2 separate regions of the Homo sapiens genome follow, and region 1 is linked to region 2. Evidence: fine-mapped expression QTL. A gene starts in region 2. The other region holds a variant in brackets. All regions are shown on one strand. Distances are between the middles of the regions.

Evidence for each region. PIP is the estimated chance that this variant, and not a neighbour inherited with it, causes the effect.
Region 1: its variant is fine-mapped to the expression of ANO4 in fibroblasts (GTEx, PIP above 0.99). The same link has a PIP of 0.9 or more in testis.

Annotation. Positions count from the first base shown.
Region 1 is chr12:100,716,799-100,719,713 of GRCh38, reverse strand. It overlaps a transcript of ANO4 not described here. Among named protein-coding and RNA genes, the nearest start is that of ANO4, 77 kb to the left of the region's middle. The variant G/C (reference allele first, on the strand shown) is at 1,311.
Region 2 is chr12:100,793,143-100,796,057 of GRCh38, reverse strand. It overlaps ANO4 (anoctamin 4), which reads right to left and starts at 1,282. Exons shown (of 28, transcript NM_001286615.2): 1 at 1,031-1,282.

The DNA of each region.
Region 1 (2,915 bases), 76 kb after region 2:
CAAATTTCTCTCTCATCTTGTGAACCTAAAACACATGGTCTACAGTGTAACTGTTCATTCTCTTGGCAGCCCCTGTGCTAAAGATAAGAATAAAGCATTTATTAAATCAGTCAATTAAACACAAAAATTGAACCCTATAAATTCCAGGCAAAAAGTTTAGATCATCCCCCATCATGATGCCTAAACCCAAATCCAACAGAATTGACAGGGGACATTTTTTACAAGGAATTCAATTGTCAAAGAGAAGATTTGCGGAGGGTTCCAGGGCTGGACCAAGCTCTCATCAGATAATGATCTCAATAGTATCCAGTGGGTGAAGAATGTATTAAATGTGCTCAATGTTTTTCTCCTTAACTTGTTCACTAGGTTGAAAACCCTGATGGACTAATTTATTCTGTCATGGTTTAGCTCACACTGCTACAGATCTAAGAATTAACGTGGAATTTGTGGCCAAGTATATGCATCATTTTAGGGATGGATGCAGGAGGAGAATGTGTCAAGCAGAAATTCTAATTGATATTTTTATTGAAATATGCTTCAGTTCTCTTTAAGGGTCTAATGAGAAACCTGTGTAATTCTTAATCACCAAAAACAAAGATCTGCCACCTTTTTCCTTTAATTACTGAAATATACTTCTTTTCAAAATGATTTCACTTATTCTGACTTCATTTTCTCCACCTGGGTGCTCAATTAAGCTTTTAAAGCTTCTAGAAACGTACAGAACTGATCATTACGTAAACCTATTACTGACAGTATCCATGGGGCAGCATACAAAATCTAAAATGATGTAAAAAAACAGAAGTTAGATCCCTCTGATAGGAAAAGGTGTAAAAATAGATGTTTTGCCAATGAATATGCCTAAAATGCCATCAGCATATTGAATTATCCCCAGATGGTAACCCAGGAACCACAATGTTGAGTGTTAAATGTGCGTGCAGGTAAGAACAACTTAAATCCCAGCAAAAATGTTCTGAGCACGGGGGAAGGGGGTTGGAGGAAAGAAAAAACAGGCCACCAGACTGAAATTTGTAATCTGCTCACAATTTGTTACTGGTTCCCAGGCATCAATTGCAAACCCTCTGAGCCACCTAAATGATCATTTTAAACAATTTAAATCCAGAGAAAGAGACTGACCCTGTTAACCTTGGTAAAATGAGCAGGGGACATCACTGGCCTAGAGAATGAAGATTCCACACCAAAGAATAGTAATTTCCGTCCCACCCATCCCAGGCTTTGAGATGTCCCTGCAGAACATTCCCCATCAATTGCTCACAGCTTTCCCCTTTAAAATGCCAAATCTAGATCTTATC[G/C]CAACAACTGACTGCAAGCAAGAGGAAGGGAGGGAGGTCTACTTGAGTTTCTGCTTCCTATAACCAAGTCTCAGCAGTATTTCTGATAAAGGGCTAAAGAGAATTGCTTTATCCACACAAGCAAGAACGTTGATAAGAAGCCTTGCTGGCTTCCCCAGCGCGCTAGGATTTCTAGCTGAGCCTGAAACCTTCACACAGTGATTTTGTTTTCCTTCAGAACCATGCAATACCACACATGTATATATGTATATGTCTATTCATATATATTTATTTAACAAAACAATGGGCAGGGGAACGATGAATGCCTTCCTTTTTCATAAACTTTTATTTCCAAACTGATTTCTTTTTTTGCATTAAAAACATGTTACAGTGCATATTATTTTAACTCCACAGCATCTGTCAGAGAGATGTTCTCATCTCTCTGATTTACAGACGGAGAAATGCAGAGGCTGAAAAGTTTAAATAACTTGCCCAAGGTCAGTCAGGGACAAGATAAGCGCTGGCTGAACGCACATCTCCCAACTCCAAGCCTCACCCCGCTAGAGGAGGACTTAACACCCGCGTCCCTTCCCCTGAGTGGTCGGAAGCGAGGGGAATGTTTCTAGAGTCCCGAAGCTCCCAGATCCTCCCAAATTTTGAAGCGTTTTTCCCGCAGACACCCGGTTCCCGGGTTACCCGCGGCCCGAAACCCCGCGGAACATCGGCCCCTCAGGAGCGGCGCGCACGGCCGCCGTCTCCCTCCCTTCCAGACCCCTCCGCAGAGGCGAACCCCGAAGTTTCCCCGGGTGTTTCGACGGCTCCCTGGGCCCCTCCCTTCCGCCCCGCCGCCCCAGGAACCCGCGACGGCCCCAGTTACCGTATGCGGTGAGGGAGGCCATCCTGGCCCGCGTCCTGCCCAGACTGGCCAGGGCGTCGGCTAGAGCGGCCCCCTGCGCGCTGCGCCCCTGGACGGCCCGGCCCGGCGAGTGCATGCGCTTGGCTCTAGCGGCGCCCGGGCGCTCCGCGGCTGAGCACGCCCAGTCAGCGCGCCGCGCTCGCCCCTAGAGCTGCCGGCGCGCGGGGGCCCCCGGCCGGGCTGCGCCGCGAGAGCGGCAGGAGAGAGGGCGTAGACCGGCAGCCGCGCTCCGGGTCCCCGCGGGGATTGAACCAGCCGCGGAGGACGCGCGGCCGGGAGAGGGGAGGGGCGAAGCTGGAGGTGGGAGGTGCCCGGCAGAGGCGCGCCGCGGATTTGGCCCAGCGCAGCCGGCGTCGGGCGGGATCCCCGGTGGGTTCACGCCAAAAGGGGTGGCAGGGATGTCGTGGCAAGGGTCGGGGAGTCCCAGGCGCGCCACAGCCTCTCGGGACGGTCTCCTTTCCTAGGGAAGCTCCACTGGAGAGCGCGCCGGGGAACACATGGGGTGGGTCTGGCCGCCCGTGACTCTGGGCGCGATTCCCAGCCCAGGGGACAGTCTGGAGAAGGCTTTGCCTGTGAGACCAAAGCACAGGGGAGAGTAGCAACCTTCTCCTGCGCACTTCTATTAGTGAAGTCGGTGACTACTAAGTACCGAACTCTGACCCCAACAGTTCAGACCTGTCCCAGTACATCATCTTATCATCTCTGTTTGT
Region 2 (2,915 bases):
ACCAAAAAAAAAAAAAAAAAATCCCTGTTAAGAGAGACTCCTGCAACGCACAGGAGTGAAACTAATAAAATGTTCTTGGTTTCCTTTGGGCGTCAAGAAGCTGCCAGTAATAGACTTGAAGTTGTGATGCTCTTTGCAGCAAACCTCAGGAGACCAGGTGAAAAATTAGAGCACTATTGTAAGAGTAATGTCCCTGGAATAAACAATCTGCCACATCCATAGTCTTCGTCAGAAACCTGCTTATGTTCTCCTAGAAAAGTCTAACCATTCTAATAACCTCAAAGTATTTTATCTCCTAGCAGGAGGACAAAACTATGTTGTCAACTCAAAAATGTTCCTGTCATCACTGCCCTACCACTCTCTGAAGAGCCTGTAAAATATGGTTTGCAGAACTGGGTACCCTGAGACTCAGAAGGGAAAGAAGCAATGAGGTCATGCAGTCTACTCCGTCTGCCAGCTCAGGATTCCTCCTGCTGAGAATGTTCCTGCCCAAGTTGTAAACCCCACAAGATATAGGGTCATCCCAGACCCACACGGGCAGGTGCAGAAAACACAGCTGCCCACAGCAGACTCAACATAACTCACACGTGTGTGCTCATCTTTATCCACAAAGATGGAAGAGTTTGCTATGTGGGCAGGTCACCCCCGGCCCTTCTGATCCTGAGTGAGTGCCCCTGGCACACTGAGGATTCATCCTGCCCAAATTTGTCAGTCATCCTCCACAGATTCCCTGCACGCTGCTGCAGTTTACCATCGTGAACACATTTCCCCGGCTGCTGCTTCAAGGACAAAGACAGAGCACTTATATTCGTATCACAGCAGAAGAGCTCACGTTTATGGAAAAAAGATAAAAAGACAAACACTCCAGGCAAATGACCCCTGGCATTTTTGAAGCTGGATCATCCCAGACAAGATCCATGAAAACAGAGGAAATGCAGAAGGAAGGTCACTAAGCTTAGCTGGGAAGAGGGGGAACGAACGGTTCAGTTCACTGCAGCAACAGAGCAGCTCATTCAACGTAAGCACTTACCATAAAAATAGAAAGAGTCAACAGAAGGAGAAGGGATCCTTCCTCAGTGCCTTGGTGTCTTCGGCAGAAAGAAATCCACTGTGAACCTCCAGGCTCCAGTCGGGAGGAGGCCAGCAAAGTGATGACAGGCAATAAAACCACCACACACAAGTCCTTTTCAGCCTCCCCTCGGGCCGTATGCAGTTGTTTGTGCTGTAAAAACCCTGAGAAGTCTGGAACAGGACTCTCCGGAGAGCGAGCCGGAGTGAAAGCAGCCTGGTGGATTTCACCACCGTCTCAGAGCATCACGCCCAGGACTGGTCCTCCCCCTCCCCAGGTGCAGGGGAGGCATGGTCGGGGGAGGGTGGGCACTAGGCTGGGCTAGGAAAGGCGAGAAGAGGGATGAAAAGGAGTCTCTTTAGAGTGGAAGGAACTGCCGGAGAGAACATCAGTATTCCATATCAGTTATTGCCAGCGACCAATCAGCCCAGCCAGGGGGCCGTGTCAGTGTGACAAGAGAGCAGCAGATGACAGCCAGTTCTGAGAGCGGCAGGACAACCCCCTGCCTGGAAAAGAAATTTGGGAGGATTGGCAACTTATCCTCTCCACTGCTGCTGTTAATGTTTGCTTGTATTTAACAAAGATCTAAAGCCCCATAGTTACACTAGCCATGCAGGAAGTTTTTGAGGCATCCCACAGCATCTCTGCAAGAAGCCAGACTTGAAGTCCCCTAAATGATGTCTGATGGCATGTCACAGTCCAGACAGCCCTACTGATGTGCCTTCAAGGGGTCATCATGAGTACAGTAATGGCGCTTTGGACCTAAGCTTCTTTATGCCCAAAGTGCAGGATAAGATGACCAGTGACCCGGCTTTCTATTTCAGAAGTGAAAAATTTAAGACAGAGAAGGGTCAAAGGTCTCTCCAGGAATTTGACTGTCAATCTTCATTAGTTTTCTTGTATAATATAGGTATAGAAATATTGTTAGAGGTGAGCTTCTGAAGATAGTTAACATGTCCCTTTTAGAGCTCTTAAATCACCTATAAGACAAAATATGTGTTTGGGATAAACAATAATAACAATTCATAAACACACTGAAAATTGAGAAATTCTGACTTACACTAACAGAAGGAGCAAAGGAGCAAATCTCTTGGTGATAAATGAAGGATGCGTGGAGGACTCTAAACTTTTCCTACTTCCCTTTTCCCCTATTCTAATATTGAACTTATAAACTTTGTCCATATATATTAATTAATTTGTATTTGGTTGTGATGATTACATTATATAGGGATGTAGTTTCTGAAGTTAAATGCCAGTTTAATTGGACTCCACAGTAAAACTTCAGAACTTTTTGTAAGATGGGGAGATTGTCTTGGGCCACCTTTTTATCACTGCAGAAAAGATAACTCCCTTTAGTCAGTCAAGAGTTAACAGGAATATACAAATGCCCTCGGGTTTTGTTTTCTGTTTTTTTTTTCCAGGTGACTTACATGATGTAGAGTTTTTAATTTTAGTTGTCTGTTTTTACCTAGAAGTTGGAATACCATTTGCACATTTTGCTGTGATCTCTACCCGTAGGCAAGCTGACTTTGGGGAGCCTGAATACCACAGCTTAAAAGGAAGGGCTGAGCTCCAAGGAAGCAGATAACTCAGCACCAAAATGAGTCACAGCAGAAGGCCATAAAAAATGTTCCACATCAAAGATGAACATAATAAAGTGAAATTTTTTAAACGAAGAAGAAAGGATAGTTTGCCAGGGAAGTCCTTGTAAATTATATAAGGAAAACCTGGGAGACTTTGATTCTCAAATGCTGTTTTGTTATTCTCCTCAGTTCAACTCAAATCAGCAAACATTTGAAGAACATCAATTATGCATCAGGGCTACAGAGATGAGTCCTTGCCTTCA